Regions from separate parts of the Homo sapiens genome. Here region 2 is linked to region 1. Evidence: fine-mapped expression QTL. Tissue or cell type: whole blood. Region 1 holds a variant in brackets; the other region holds the start of a gene. All regions are shown on one strand. Distances are between the middles of the regions.

The links. PIP is the estimated chance that this variant, and not a neighbour inherited with it, causes the effect.
Region 2: ZNF787 starts here. The variant in region 1 is fine-mapped to the expression of ZNF787 in whole blood (INTERVAL, PIP above 0.99).

The regions. Positions count from the first base shown.
Region 1 is chr19:56,083,806-56,091,909 of GRCh38, forward strand. ZNF787 (zinc finger protein 787) reads right to left here. Exons shown (of 3, transcript NM_001002836.4): 3 at 3,561-5,287. The coding sequence ends at 4,218. Among named protein-coding and RNA genes, the nearest start is that of LINC01864, 21 kb to the left of the region's middle. RefSeq lists enhancers at 1,206-1,707, 1,708-2,207, 2,543-3,142, 7,115-7,284, 7,414-8,104 and 1 more. The variant TTAAAAGAAAATTC/T (reference allele first, on the strand shown) is at 3,768.
Region 2 is chr19:56,117,605-56,125,708 of GRCh38, forward strand. It overlaps ZNF787 (zinc finger protein 787), which reads right to left and starts at 3,691. Exons shown (of 3, transcript NM_001002836.4): 1 at 3,568-3,691. LOC124904772 (a long non-coding RNA gene) reads left to right here and starts at 4,006. Exons shown (of 2, transcript XR_007067348.1): 1 at 4,006-4,328; 2 at 5,916-6,941. RefSeq lists enhancers at 1-591, 331-500, 2,736-3,030, 3,458-4,173 and silencers at 2,778-2,827, 2,908-3,227, 3,518-3,597, 3,608-3,727, 3,818-4,187.

The sequences.
Region 1 (8,104 bases):
TCTCTGTCCATGGTGCTGAAAGACCGGCGCCAGAAAATAGGGAATTTCTGGATAGACTTGTCCATCAAGGCAGGAGAGGAGGCAAAATCAATGGTGCCAGAGGCAACTCCGTCCCCACCCACAGCCTCTTTGAGTGGTAGATATGAGGGGAAGGAGGGTGGATGTATACCACAGACACACACATACCCACATGCGCACAGACATACATATGCACAAAGATACAGATGCACCATCCACACAGACATGCATTCATACATGCAGAGACACACACAATTCACATGCATGCACTTCTCTAAGGATGGCCTGGAGTACACCAGCCCAAGATGCTCTATAAATGGAAGGTTTTCTGACAGAACAAGTTCAGAAAATGCTGCATGTTTTCACCTACCCCTGCCCTGGCCCCCAGCCCCACCCGGGTATACAGAATCATAGTGGAAAGTTCTGAGCCGGGTGGGTGTGGGGGGCTAGTTTTATAATTCATCCAGTCGACTAAATCTTGGCTCAGCACCTTCCACCTGCCAAGTACTGTTCTGTGTATGAGAAAATTTCAATCCGGCAGGGTGCAGTGGCTCACACCTGTAATCCCTGCACTTTGGGAGGCCAAGGTGGGTGGACTACTTGAGGTCAGGAGTTCAAGATGAGCCTGACCAATATGGTGAAACCCCATCTCTACTAAAAATACAAAAGTGAGCCGGGTGTGGTGCTGGGTGCCTGTATTCCCAGCTACTTGGGAGGCTGAGACAGAATTGCTTGAACCCAGGAGGCAGAGGTTGCAGTGAGTCCAGATTGCACCACTGCACTCCAGCCTGGGTGACACAGCGAAACTCCGTCTCAAAAAAAAAAAAAAAGAAAACTTGAATCCAGCATTTTCCCAGGTTATTTGAATACAAGATCCTGTTTTCTCCAAACATCTTAACAATATTCCCTGGAACCTACACTCTCCAGGCTACCCTTAGGGAAACGGGGCTGTATGGAATAAAATCATTTCCAGATCAACACTGCCTTCAGGCTGGGGAGTAAGCTGGGTGGAGGGTCCCTTTCCACTCACCTGTCTGGCCCTCACTCCCCCTGGGATTGCCTGTCACACCTGCCCCCTGCCCAGGACTCCTCCACCTCCTGCCTCCTGAGAGCCTCTTTTTGTCCCTTCAGCCCTTAGCTGTGTGTATCCCCTCCCAGCCCCCATGACAGCAGAGATTTGTGCCTGTTGAGGTCACTGCTGTGCCCCCATGCTTAGCAGAGTCCCTCACAGGAAAGAAGTGCCCGATAAACACCTAAGATTAAGTGGATTATCAACTCAGCAGGGGGCCGGGGGTGGGGGGCATGGGTGTCAGGACTTTAGATCCAGATTAAGGTTCTACCACTTTACAAACCAGTAGCCTGGGCAGGCTGCTTCCTCTCCTCGTACCAGCTTCAGCAGCAGCAGCCGAGGAATGATGGCAACCACACAGGGCCTTTGTGAGGACTGGACTCCGTAAGGGGCGTGAACGAGTCTGGGCGTGCCCTCCACCAAAGTGAGCATGAGAGGAATGGGGGCCGAAGGAACTTCTGCGGTCACTGCCAGGGTGGGTTTGTGAGCATGGAGCGGCCGCCTAGCCTCACCTTGCCGTGGGTGAGCAGCTCCAATGCAGGTGAACTACAGGGCCGACGGCAAGTGCCACAAGAACCCATGTTCCTTTCTTTACCTGGGACCCACGCCGTGCCTACTGGGCACGGAGCTGCTGCCCAAAACACATTTGTAGAATGAGTGAGTGAGGGGTGGGCAATGACTACCTGAGTGCATGAATCAGTAACGGACAGCGTGTGACACCAAAGCACAGGTCAGGTGTTGGGTCCGGTGCAGGCTGATGTCAAGGTGGTCATGTGAGCTCGCTCAGTTCTGTATTACAAAGTGGGATGAGTAGTGCAGAGCTGGGATTTGAGCCTGGCTCCTCGCCCCTGCATCTTTGCTCATGCCTGGGAGGGCAGCTCCAGTGAGTTAACACATGGCTTGGGGATTCCCCCCTCCACACACAGTCATACAAGGCAGGCAGGCAAGCTCTCCTTTCCACAGGGCAGGAAGCCAAGGGTCAGAGAGGTTAGTCCACTTGCCCAGGGTCACACAGCCTTAAGGGGCAGGGTGGAAACTTGCCCTGAATCTTTCTTGCTATAGGTGTCAGCTCCTGCCACCATATACTGGAGCAGGTAGAAGAGGCTGACCCGAGACTCAGTGTGCCCGACTTATGGGGCACCGAGCTGCCAATTCTACCAGACAGGGCACCTCCCATCCTCCCAGGCCTCCAGAAGTGCCCAAGGCCAGAGCTCCACAGAAGGACCCTAGGAGAAGTGAGCAATGCTTCCTCAGTCTTTGCTAACCCAGCCCACTCTGAACTGCCAAGGTTCACCCCCTCCTTTCGAGTGACCTGAAATTTCAAAAACTGACATGCAATACCAATTATCTAAGCAAGGCTCTGGCCACTTGAGAACACGCTTTTTTGATCCACAATCACTCCCTAGTCCTCTAACAAATCCTCCAGGATCTGTAGACCATCAGTGGCCCTGGTTTCTAAACCCCCTGCCTCCAGATGAGGCCCCAGGACCCTCCTCAAGCACATCAGGGTGTGAAAGGGCAGATTAAGGGCTCTAACTGGAAATCCGAATTTCTCCTTCAAGTCCCCCTCTACTATGAAACCCCCAAGTCAAAGACGCCTGCAGCTTGCCGCCTCCAATCGCTCCTGAGTAATCGCAGCCTTCAGCCAGGTTGAAAATACCCCTTTGGGACCCTCACTGCGGCCTCCCAAGGCCCCAGGAACATGGGTCCTCAGGACCTGGGCTGTGGGTCCAGGAAACCAGTCGCCATGGTCGAGCCCCCTTCTGATCATGAACAACAGCGCTCACCTGGCAGGGCGGCTGCAGCGGCTCTACCGGACCAAGCCCCTCGGGCACGCGCACTGCCTGAAATGCCCTAAGCGCTCGGCTGGACTGTGGCATACCCGCCCTCTCCCCCAGCCCCTGGCTGGCTCGTCTGCCTGGCCCCTGCAGCAGAGACAGCTGAGCGCACCATCCTCCTCCCGTAGGGGGCGGGGGGTCCTGTCCCCGGAGCGGCAGCCGCCGGGACCTCATCTCCCAGCCTCCTTCGCAGGGAGCCGCAACCACGGGACCAGCCCCGTGAACGACCCAGGTAGGGGGACGTGCGCCCTTTGCAGTCAGAGTCTCCCCCAGAAGCTGGAGGCAGGAGGAGGGTGCTTTTGGGGTTAGGGGCGGGGGCCACACGATAGGAGTGGAGGAAGCCAGCCGCCCCTGTGAGAGGGTGGTAGAAGCCGTGGGGGCTCCTTCCCCTGCAGCGGGCAGGCCTGGCCCTGACCAGTCCGCCCTGCCCCATCTACAAGCAGCTCCCAGGCCCTGTGAGTGCCCGCACCATAGTGAGGATATCCGCGGACAGGCCCCCCTGCCTAGAGCCCTCCGCGGGCGACCCAACGGGCCACTCCCGGGGCGCGGCTGACGCTCTGCTGATGCCCCGGCGAGAGCCTCCGTTTACCCCTCTTGCCCTTCTCCCTCCCGGACTCAAGAACCACGCAGAGGGGGACATTTGGATAGTGCCGTTTATTGTTCCAGCACCCCTTCCTCCACCACGCCCAGGCCTGGGACAAACGGGCACCCGCCTCCTGCGGCGCTGCCTCTGCTACCCGGAATCCAGGAGGGGAAGGAACGACTCGAGCTCTAAGGATGGGACCCGGAAGGCAGAAAAAAATAATGGATTGGGGCGGGCGGGGAGTCAAAAGGTGGGCTGA[TTAAAAGAAAATTC/T]TAAAAGAGAAAAGGGCCCCTGGTTCTCTTCCCTCTCTGGGATCCTCTAAAGGGCCTGGTTTCTCCATTCCTCGCAGCACCCCCCACCCCCGCCCCGGACAACTGAGGAAGAGCAGGGAAAATGGCCTTCCGCTTGGGGCCTGGTCGCCACTCGGCCTCTGCAGTTCTCTCCATTGTCTCTCCGGCTCGCAGGCCGATAACTTAGGAAGGGCGGGCCAGGCTGAGGGGGCAGAGTCTCGAGGCGGAGAAGTGAACGGGCCCTAATACGCCCCAGTGCCCCCCCACGGACGGCGCAGGGACAGAGGAGGGCGGGGAGCCGGGGATGCCGCGGGGTCCATCGCACCCCGTCCGCTTCTCCCTGGGTCTCTTGGTCTTGCACGTCGTCGCTCCCGCCAAGCCCGAGGGGCCCTGCCCGCCCCCCCCCCCGGGCCCCTCCCCTACCGGCCCTCCCCACCGCGGCACTCGGGGCACCGCCCGCCCGCGGCCTCGTCGTCGTCGTCCTCCTCCTCCCCGCCCGCGCGGTAGTAGCTCTGTCCGCAGCTGCTGCAGACCGAGGGCGCGCCCACCGCGTGGATCTTCTTGTGTCTCCGGAGCGCGGCGCCCTGCACGAAGCCCTCCCCGCACTCCACGCAGATGTGGGCCGGCTCCTCGCCCCCCGCCGCCCCGAGCCCGTCCCCGTGCTGGGCCCGCTGGTGCGCCAGGAGCCCGGCCCCGTGCCCGAAGCCCTTCCCGCACTCCAGACACACGTACGGCTTGGGGGCCGGGGCGCGCCGCGACCGGGGCCCCGCGGCCTTTGCCCCCGCGCCCGCCATGGCTGCCGCGGCCGCGGCCCCCTCGCCCGGCGCGCCCACCACGATGATGCCCTCGCCATCGCCCACGGGGATGGCGATCTCGCCGTCCGCCGCCACCGCCTCTTCGGGCCCCTTGGCCCGCCGGACGCTAGCCGCCAGCACCTTGGCCGCCACGCCAGGCCCCGACAGCTCCGGGTGCAGCCGCAGGTGACGCGCGAGGCTCTTGGGCTGGCTGAAGCCGCGGCCGCAGCGCGGGCACACGAAGGGCTTGAGGCCGCTGTGCGAGCGCCGGTGCTTGGCCAGGCTCTTGCTCTGAGTGAAGCTGCGGCCGCAGTCGGGGCAGGTGTAGGGCTTCTCGCCCGTGTGGATGCGCTGGTGCTGCATGAGGTTGGAGCTCCAGCTGAAGCGCTTGCCGCACTCCAAGCAGGCGTAGGGCTTCTCGCCCGTGTGGATGCGCCGGTGCTGCACCAGGTGCGAGCTCTGCGAGAAGGTCTTGCCGCAGTCGGCGCAGGCGTTGGGCCGCTCGCCGGTGTGCGTGCGCTGGTGCCGCGTCAGCTTGGACCAGTGGCTAAAGCTCTTGCCACACTCGTTGCAGATGTAGGGGGCGGGCGGCCGCGGCCGGGGAGGCGGGCCGGCTGGGGGCGCAGACTGGGGCGGGGACAGCTTGGTGGGAGGCCAGCTGGGGACGTCGTCATCATCCATGATGAGGATGTCCACTGGAAAGCAAGAGGGTAGGGGGAGGTGAGTCAAGAGAGGCAAGGGCTCCACGCCTGCCTTGGCTGCTACGCTGGCCTCGGGTGCCTCGCTCCCCCTGGCGCAGGACCTGCCCTGGTGTCCTCAGAGTGTGCATCACTCCCTGCATTTTACTAAGTATTTATTACCCCTCTCCCCAGCTAAGACCTCAGCTCTGTGTGAGTTAAGACCCTCAGTTTACCCCCAACCTCTAGAACAATGCCCCAGACACAGAAGGCCTGGTCTGTAAACAACCAGGCAACATAAGAGGCATGGGCGAGGGGCGGGATCCACGGAAGGCTCCCAGAAAAGGACCCCGAAACCCAAAACACCAGCCTGGACGCCGGGGGCAGAGGATGAGGAAGGCTCACGGGCAAAGGTTCCACTAGGCAGAGGGGCCGCAGGGCTTGAATGCAGCCCTGGACACCTGGTCCTGAGCCAGGGAGTGGGTTTGGCACCCTGAAGACGTGCCCGCCAGGGAGCGATGGTGTCACATTCGGGCTCCAGGAAGACAATCCTGGCTGCAGACAGGTAATGGGATTGGAGATGAGCATGAAAGCCCCACCTCCGAACCTGGGAGTAAAACCTGGCTCAACGCCACCTCCATTACAGAGGCTATGGTCAGCCCCTGGTGTGGGGGCTCCTGTCTGCTCAGTGAGGACAATTCGGGCACACAGGGCTTTGCCTGCACATCTTTACACTGAGGACGCCCTTCCAGCAGTCAACGAGGCCTTTCACACTTCTGCACCAGGCCTGCCCCTGGGGGCTCTCCCGGGAGGGATGGGCTTGCCTCCTCCCCAGCTCATTCACTCCTGAGAAGGGTCCGTGTGCAGCTTCTACATTTGCTCTCCCTTGGGGCCTGGTCCAGAGCAACAGAATCAGGTGGGAGGGCCTCAGCAAGTGCATCTCTGACCCCCGTGGACACCCCAGGTGCACCCCACAGGGTTTTTTCAAAGCCATGAATCACAATTACAACGTTCTCACTCCTGACCTTACTAGACTGTAAGCTCCTAAGTCTCTATCCCAACACCTGGCACGGTGGTGCCCAGCACACAGAGCCCAAACACCCTCCCAGATGCCACGCTGGCAAACACGCAAGGAAGGGCCATGACGCCCCCCTGCGCTACACACTTCAGCGTCAGGTCCTCATAAGCTGGGAGCACAAAACTGAGCCTTTACAAGGGAGAAACTGAGGCACTAGGGAGTCGAGTCACAGCCCACAGCTACACGACTACAAAGTGGCAATGCCCAGAAGCGCATTAGTAGACTGGGTCCAAGAAACAGCCATCTACCACTAACTGCGGCCGCCCACCGCTAAATCCCCCACCCACAGGCAGCACACCCTACACGCTAAGGGAGTGCTCCACAAAGTGGGATCCTGCGACCAGTAGCATCGGCGCCACAGAGAACATATTAAAAACATTTATGCACTGCCCGGAGCGGTGGCTCACGCCTGTAATCCCAGCACTTTAGGAGGCCGAGGTGGGCAGATCACTTGAGGTCAGGAGTTCAAGACTATCCTGGCCAACATGGCAAAACCCCATCTCTACTAAAAACACAAAAATTAGCCGGGCGTGGTGGCGCATGCCTGTAGTCCCAGCTACTTGGAAGGCTGAGGCAGGAGAATGACTTGAACCCGGGAGGCAGAGGTTGCAGTGAGCTGAGATCACACCACTGCATTCCAGCCTGGGCGACAGAGCAAGACTCCATCTCAAAACAAAACAAAAACGCTTATGCTCAGGCCTCCCTCCAGACGCACTGTATGAGAAAGTGCCGGGCCGGGCCTGTGCTTCAGCAAGCCCCCCAGGTGATTCTGATGCCAGCTCCAGTGTGAGAATCACTATTCCAAGGCAGAGAGTATTCGAATATGGCTCTTGAACCTGCGGCAGAAGAAAACACTCCAGGTGAAGTCAGGAAGGGGGGAGCCTTCTGGAGAGATGGCATGGAGCCCACTGCGTTGTCAACATAAATCAAAAAATGTTGTAAGTTATAAGCACATTACTTAAAGATGTAGAGAGAATTAAAAACAAACATCAGAAGCTATTTGCCCCGGGGCAGTGTGACTGAAGGGGACAGAAAGGGACGGGCAGGAAAGAGATTTGTTGTCACCGTAAACCGAGCCATACTATCTGAACCTTACAAGTGCTTCTACGCCTTTAATTAAAATAACTGCTTTGTTTTCGAAGCTGTGAAGAAAGAAAGTGTAGCAATGCTCCCTGTGACTCAGCTATGAATAGCATTTATTCATGACGACATGAATTCTGAACACAAAACTTGTGACACAGTGGCAGCTAAGACAGGGGCACTGGGGCGGGTGTGCAGTACGTGGAGAGCGCAGTGAGTGGAGAGTGGGGAGAGGATGTGGGAGCCATGTCCTCACCTCCCATTAGATTTGCAACTATCAAAGCAATTTCATGAGCTCTTTACCTAGAACCAGGGAGAACCCCAAAGAGTGCATGGAGGGGCTCCTTCCTCTAGAGGCAAACTGGGAGTGGGGAAGGCAGGAGGTGGGAGCTGTTTTCTGCTTTAGGCCGTAGGCGATCTGGCTTCTCTACAGGCATCTCTGCACTACTTTTTCTAAGTACGAGTTAAGCACTGTTAAATGGACAGGGTTTAATTACTTAAAAGGCAGGGCTCTTTTACATCTTGCAGATTCCTGGGCTCTGCGCAAACCTTCCCGTGCTGCATCTCAGTAAGGCCCAGGAAACCGCGCTTCACAGGCACAGACTGGTTTCTGACAAGAGGCTGCGTCTGCACCGCGCATGGGCCAAGATGAGCCGCTCCACTTGCCGCAGCCGCAG
Region 2 (8,104 bases), 34 kb after region 1:
CTTCTAACTCTTGGACAACGGCATTTGTCCCCTTTAACGTCCACCATTGAGGATGGTCCTGTGTCCCGCAGGGGGATCTGTGTCTTACTCCGTGTCTTATTCACCTCTGCGACACCTACTATAGGTCCCCATCAGTCCCACAGTGCATCCAGCAGACTGTGCACTTGAGGGCGGGGCTATTTCCAGCAAAGACCCTGCACACAGCAGCCTCAGGAATCCATGGCTCTGACTGGCTGGACCCTGGGCTGAGGCAAGGACCACTTCTGATGCATCTCTGGGTCCCAACACTATCCACTGCAAGGCCTCGAAACAGGGGGGCCAGATGGGACCCCCATTTAGCACAAGAGAGACGTCCACACTCTGTGAGCCCAAAGGGAGAAGGCTCAGGCCACGGCAGAGACGGAACCAGGAAAACGTCACGAAAAACAGCCTCAAGTTGCCAGGTCCCTTGCAGGAACAGACAGGCCTGGGGCCGCCCCACCTGGGCTCAGAGCTTGGGCTGGTTTCTCTGCAGCTGTAAGGTGACAGCTCTGGGCTCCTGGGACAGGGCCACTGACACTGGAGGTGTGACTGCTCGAACTCCACACCTGCCTTGCTCTCCCTGATGCTGGGTGAGTGAGGCCTCCTTGGGGGTTGCATGGATCTCAGCACTCAACTTCCGAGCCACTTGTGCTTCTCCCACTATGCTGGGGTTCCCCTGAACCAGCCAGCAGCCCTGCGTGTAGGAGTCCTCGTGGACAGTACACCCCACTAGGCAGGGAGTCCAGCGTCTCCAAGCCAATGACTAACACCTAGAGGACTTCGGAACAGCCTTTGTCCCCCTAGACCCCAACCTGGGGGCGGAAGGGGGCGGTTGTGATGGTCAAGGGTCTGGGCTCTGGAATCGCAGTAGACACAGGTTCTGAAGCTGCTGGGGGCCTTGGGCTAACAAGTGCCATCCAGAGCCTCCATCCCATACCCCTAAAATGGAGGTGACCACCTCCATCCCAGAGCCTTGAGAATTTAGGACAGTGAGGACCAGGCACTGGGCCAGGTTCCTGCAAAGTGTGCACCAGCAAGTGTTGTCGAATCTGCAGTTTCTCACACCACAGAGGCCCCAGCACCTGGCACAGTCCTCACTAGGCTGGAGGCCTCAGGATGCACCAGAGGACACACGAACGAGGTTTGGAAAGGCCTGTGAAACATGTCTGAGGATGGGTGTCCTGAGAGCTGTGTATGCCTAGTAACAAAAGACCTCCCAGGGCAGCCAGGCAGTTGCTGGTGGCCTTGAGCTGTGACCCCTGCCATTCCCTGCCCAGAGCCCACTGTCATCCTCCCTTAAGTACCAGGTTCCTGGTAGCCAATCCTTCCTCTCTATCTTTCAAGACACAATACCTCCCCTGCACCACACACCCCTCCCTCAAGGTCAGAGCTCCCGGGAGCACTCTGGCAAATCTCCCCACCCCTCTGCCCAGTGTGAATGGGTCTCAGCTGCTCTGGGACAGGGACTGTATGATTCCTGCCAGGCTGCCCAGCACGGAGCACCACTCTACCTTGTGCTTGCACAGAAGGGCCTTGAGATCCCTCTCTTCACCCAGGCTGGGCCAGGCACCTCATCTGGGCCCTCACAGGACAGTGCTGTGCCAAGACCATGTGTGACCTCATGCCCAGCACAGGGCCTGGCCTGTGCAGCCGCCTGGATGGATTACATTTACTCAGGGAATTGTGAACTTGCTCTCGTTTTTAGACAACTGAAGGGAAATTGAACCTGGGAAAAGGGAAGTGACATGTCCAAGGTCACAGAAGTGGAAGAGACAGTGCCAAGGCCAAGGCCCAGGAAAGGGCCTGGCTCCAGAGCCCTTTCCATTTACTTTACACCCATCTGTTGAGGTCTGCTCTGGCTCTAAAATGAAAGCATTAAGAGCCTTCCCGCTGAGGTCAATACTATTATTACCACTCCCACTCTGTCCTGGTGGAAAGTAAGGCACTGAAGTTACTCGTCTAAGGCCACGAAGGTGAGTGGTGGGGCTGGGACTTGAACCCAGGCCTGCCCAGTCCCAGAGCTCTTGGGGAATACAACCCAGTGCCTGCACACACTCTGGCAGTGCACCAGGGAGGGGCCAGGCCGGGTGCCCGGATGGATGGATAAGACATGAGATAAGCAAGCAGGAATCTGATCTGGATGTTCTCTGAGGCCGTGCGTGGCCGGAGGACCACAGGGACTGCGCAGAGGCAGGCAGGTGAATGTCAGCAGCGTTTAGCCAAAGAGGCTTACGGTCTTCAGAGGAGCTAAGCCAGGATCAACGCAACTGTGCTTCCCGGCGCTGGGGTCAATCGGATCCCCAGATGGGTTCTAAGCACTGCGCAACATGGGACCTGGGAGCAGGACACCGCAAAGAGCAGACCAAGCCATTCCTTCCCTAAAGCCCTGACCATCCCCCGGACTGGGCTGGGTCAAAATGCCTTCCCTGGCTCCCACAGCCCCCAGACCTCTCCATCAGGGGTCTGGTCACCTTGGATGGCGACTCTGTCGCCCGGGTCTCAGTCTCTGCCTTCCACCCAGACTCCAAGCCCTTGTTCATCTCCCTGCTCCCTGTCTCTAGTGCCCGGCACAGGGCCTGGCACTGGAAAAACTTCTGCCTCCACTCACTCCTGCCTTCTGTGTCTGTGGGTCACTTTTCTGTGCGACTCTGCAGGTCCCAGAGCACTCATCCACATGAATTGGGGTCAGCTCCCTGGACTGGGGGTCGGGGTGGGGTGTCAGGAGGGCGGGGCTCCACTCTGATCCACTCGGCACAGGGGAGGGAGGCCTCAGGAGTCGCCACCCGATCCAGTCCCCGCCTTCGCCCTGCCCCGTGGGCCACGCGGTGGCTGACCTTGGCCCAGTCACTTCCCCCGCTGGGGACGCGCTTCCTCCCCGCCTGCCGAGCAAGGACGAATGAATGGGCCTCCTGCCGGCCAGAATCCCCGTAATTACCCGCCTGATCAAAGGCCACGCGCAGCCCGCCCGGGGCAGCAACGGGACCCGGGCTGACTCGAAAAGGGGAAGGAAGGGCTGGGGGGGCCGAGGGCTGAGACCGTGCCCTCGGGGCCGCGGTATCCGGCCAGGCCAGCCCAACCGCGCGGCCCCTTCCCCCACCTGGGCCTCAACTTCCCCCCGAAGTCGCCACCACTTCCGGCCACGACCGGCGGAGTTGGAACTTCGGGGGGACGGACAGCGGCCCCACCCCCGACGGCCCGCAGCAGAGGGACCCCCACCGAGGCCCCCGCTCCTGCCCCCGCCACGCGCACGCGCGCGCCCTGGACCCGGACCCGCGCACGCGCACCCCCCCTCCAGCCCCGCTCGCCGCCCGCGGGCCGCCCGGGCGCGCGTCCCCTCCCACAGCTCTTCGGCGCGCACGCGCACTCCCCCCGCCCGCGTCACCCCGGCCGCGCGCCCACTCACGCCCCCCCAGCAGCGCGCACGCGCGCCCGCCGCCCAGTCGCGCTCGCCCTCCAGTCTCCCCACCCACCCCCAGCCCAAGCCCAGCTTCCCGAAGCGCGCGCCCACCTGGCCCCCAGCGCACGGCCCCCGCCCCCACCCCTCACCTCCTTGGTCCCGGGGCCGCCGCGCCGCACTCCTCCTCCTCTCTCCTGCCTCGCGGATGGTGGCAGCGGCGGCAGCGGCGACTCAGACCCTGGGGTCAGGGGGACGGGCGCCCAGGCCGGAAGTGACCTTCCCGGCCGCTTCCGCCCGCGCCGCTCCCCCCCTTCTCCCTACTCCCTGCCCCCCGGGCCGCCACCCTGTCCTCGCCGCTCTAGGAAGGCGAGCCCGCTATCCCGGCCACCGCCCCCAGCTCTGTGGTGCCCGGCGGGCGCCTGAGGGAGCCACTTCCGGAAGTGTCTAGGACGCAGGTCCTCCGTCCATGCTCTATGGCGCCCCGCGCCGAGGGGCTTCGGCCCCGCCCCCTTCCCGGACAGGAGGTGCGGGCTGGGCCCGTTAGGCGGAGACTTCCGGGTGTCTAGGGCGGTGCCCCCCCGACAACCCGGGCTCCTCGCGCCTGCGCGGCCGGGTCCCCGGGCCCGCCGTGAGGAGAGTGAAGTGGTGGAGAGGGACGCTCGTGCCACCCCGGGTCCTCCTACCGTCTCTATCATGGTAACCCCTTCTCTGCCGCTGCACCTCCCAGTGGCCCGAGTCCAGGTGCCTTAGTTACTGGACAGAGACCCCGGGTTCCTTAGTTACTGGACAGAGAGTGCTGCGCTTCAGGTGCCATGGCCTCAGTTTCCTCCTTTCTGAAGTGATGAAAATACATTGTGCGCCTCCAAGTGCTTCACACGCACTAGGTCCTAGTCCTAACTAGGGCCTCATGGTAGGTCCTATCCCTATGTTGCAGGTGAGGAGTCAAATCACCTACCAAAAGTCACACACCCGGAATGCCAGAGCCTCGGCCCGAACCCATGGAGTTTGGCTCTAAATTCGTGTATTTAACCCTTGACTGTACACACTGCCTCGTGTCATAGCCCTGAGAATCCACTACTTCCCCCGCGTTAGGTAGGCACCTAGTAAGGACGCACTGGGTGTTAGCTGTTACTGTTGGTATTCTTGCAAAAAACACATATTTTAAAATAATTGTCCAAACCATAGTGTCCTTGTAGGCTGGTCCTTCTGGTCCTTCCTCTGTTCTGTACTTGGCTGACTCTCACCTAAGTGGCAGATGACTTATCGCTTATAATTGTTATCATCCTCACTGGTAGTCAGAAAAGATAAGAAGCTATAATTCACTGGTGGAATAACACCTTTCTCAGCCTCAATTTCTCATCTGTGGAATGGGAAAAAATAAGATAACCTGCAAGGTAATATGTGTAAGAGCTGCTTAGTTCAATACCTGGCCCATAGTAAGTTCACAAAAATGATGGTGGTTATTATTACCTATTAGCAGTGTTACATATAAGTCTATTGTTGTGGCCACTGTATACCCTCAAAGCTCAGTGAGCATCAATCATAAGATGTATATTATTGATTTAATAACATCTTTCCATGGGGTGGGGTGAACAGTGCTGTGTTAACTGTGTGTGTCAATAGGAGGATATCTGTGTCCCTCCTTCAGAAATATCACAAAGGTAAATTTTTAAATATATCTTAGAACAGAAGGAAGTGTGGCCGGGTGCAGTGGCTGACACCTGTAAATCTCAACACTTTGGGAGGCAGAGGCAGACGTCAGGAGGTCAGGAATTCGAGACTACCCTGGCCAACATAGTGAAACCCCATATCTATTAAAAATACAAAAATTAGCTGGGCGTGGTGGCGGACACCTGTAATCCCAGCTACTCGGGAGGCTGAGGCAGGAGAATGGCTTGAACCTGGGAGGCAGAGGTTGCAGTGAGCTGAGATCGCACCACTGCACTCTTGCCTGGGCGATGGAATGGGACTCCGTCTCAAAAAAAAAAAAAAAAAAAAGAGAGTGAAGTGCTATCATAACAGCAATAGAAACAAATTATTAGGGTACAAACTCTACACGAGGAAACCTGTTTATAAGAAAAGTCATGTGCTTGTGCTCCTCTGAATCAGATCATTCAGTGGGTGTCCTGCAGTGACCTGGTTGTTGGGAGGGACAGCCTCCTCCCTCTCCAGCCCATTCCCCTTCTTCGCTGGTCAAATTGACAACGGCAAGATCGAGAACAGCTCATTGGCACACCAGATGGAAGCCAACACTGAGGATGGAGGAGAAACAAGACACAGGGAGCCAGCTAGACACTGGATGGCTTCGTGAAAGAGGCTCCGTGCCAGCTGAGATTTTATGTGAGAGAAATCACTTTCTAACTCACTGAAACCATTGGTAATTCTGAGTCTCTCCCTTAAGGCAACCCAACCAATACCAGGATGTTTCCCAAACATGGGATGGGTTGCAGCCGACATGGCTTAATTGACAATTAACATCTGTTCTTCCCTTCCGCAGTACAAAATCACTCTTGGGATGCTGCTTCCCATCGATGGATTCTGTTTTCCACTCCTCTTGGCATCTAAGTGTGGCCTTGTGATTGGTTCTCACCAATGGGATGGGATGGAAGCGATACAGGCCTCTTCCGAGCCAATGCTCTTAAGAAACATGTATGTTGGCCAGGCACGGTGGCTCACGCCTATAATCACAGCACTTTGGGAGGCCGAGACGGGAGGATCAGCTGAGTCCAGGAGTTCGAGACCAGCCTGGCCAACATGGCGAAACTCCATCTCTACTAAAAGTACAAAAATTAGCCAGGCGTGGTGGGCGCTTATAATCCCAGCTACTCCGGAGGCTGAGGCAGGAGAATTGCTTGAACCTAGGAGGCAAAGGTTGCAGTGAGCCGAGATCCCACCACTGCACTTCAGTATGGGCAAAAGAGTGAGACTCCATCTCAAAAAAAAAAAAGAAACATCTGCCTGCTTCCTGCTCTTTCAAGGCCCTAAAGAAAGAGGGGAGCCCCAAGAAACCTGGGTCCCTGAATGACCACCTTGTGGAAATACATCCTGTCACCTAACATCTATCCTAGATTGCTACATGATCAAGAAATACACATCTAACTTGTACACCCAATGCTCATAGCAGCATTATTCACAATAGCCAAGAGGTGGAAGCAACCCAGTGTCCATTGACAGATGAGCGAATAAACAAAATGTGGCACATAAATGCAATGGAATAGACCAGACGCGGTGGCTCACATCTGTAATCCCAGCACTTTGGGAGGCCAAGGCGGGCGAATCACCTGAGGTCAAGAGTTTGAAACCAGCCTGGCCAACATAGTGAAACCCTGTCTCTACTAAAAATACAAAAAATTAGCCAGGCGTGGTGGCGGGCGCCTGTAGTCCCAGCTACTTGGGAGGCTGAGGCAGGAGAATCACTTGAACCCAGAGGCGCAGGCTGCATTGAGCCAAGATCATGCCACTGCACTGCAGCCTGGTAAACAGAGCCAGACTCCGTCTCAAAAAATAAAAATAAATAAATAAATACAATGGAATATTTTTTAGCCTTAAAAAGAGAGAAAATTCTGACACAGGCTACAACATGGATGAACCTTGAGGACATTATGCTAAGAGAAGCAAGCCAGTCACACAAGAACACATACTTTATGATTCCACTTATATGAGGGACCTAGAGAAGTCAAATTCATAGAGACAGGAAGTAGAATGGGGGGTGCCAGGGGCTGGGGGGAGGGGAATGGGGTGTTAGTGTTTATTGGAGACAGAGTTTCGGTTTTGCAAGATGAAAAGAGTTCTGGAAATGGATGGGGGTGATGGGTGCACAAGACGTCAATAGGTTTAACACTACTGAACTGCACAGTTACAAATAGTTAAGACGTAGCCAGGCGAGGTAGCTCATGCCTGTAATCCCTGCACTTTGGGAGGCCAAGGCCTCCTGGCTGAGGTCAGTAGGTCAAGACCAGTCTGGCCAACATGGTGAAACCCTGTTTCTACTAAAAATACAAAAATTAGCCGGGCGTGGTGGTGCATGCCTGTAATCCCAGCTACTCGGGAGGCTGAGGCAGGAGAATCGCTTGAACTCGGAACGCAGAGTTTGCAGTGAGCCGAGATCAGGCCACTGCACTCCAGCCTGGGCAACAAGAGTGAAACTCCGTCCCTCCCAGACACACACAAAAATAGTTAAGACGTTAAATTTTATGTTATATATAGCTACAATTTGAAATGTGTTTAGAGGAAAAAGTACCCTTCTAACGTGATGTGCCATTACAATGTGTGCGTTTCTTTATTACAGCAGCTTCACCCTTCCCTAATACAGAGTTTTCAGATGCCAGGCAGTAAAAATGGTAAAGCTCCCTTTCAGGGGTGCATCAGCATCTAGATGGAATTTACAGCCTCGAGTCTGAATAAAATTGGGGTTAGGGGGCAATGGTGAGTACGGAGAGAATTGCAAATGGCTATAACAGCATCATTTCACCCAAGTTGGCCCATCAGTGGCTTTCTCTGGATCCTTCTCTTTGGAGAGTCCCTCTCTGGCATAGATGCCGGGATGTGAGAGGCTGGAAAGCTCAAGGCAGTCTTGCTTCCCACCGTGTGGAGGAAGCCAGTCTGCAGGAGGAGAAAATGAAGCCTCACAGAGAGGTGAGAGTTGGAGGGAGACAATGTCCCAGCTGAGTTGAGTGCCTAGGCCAT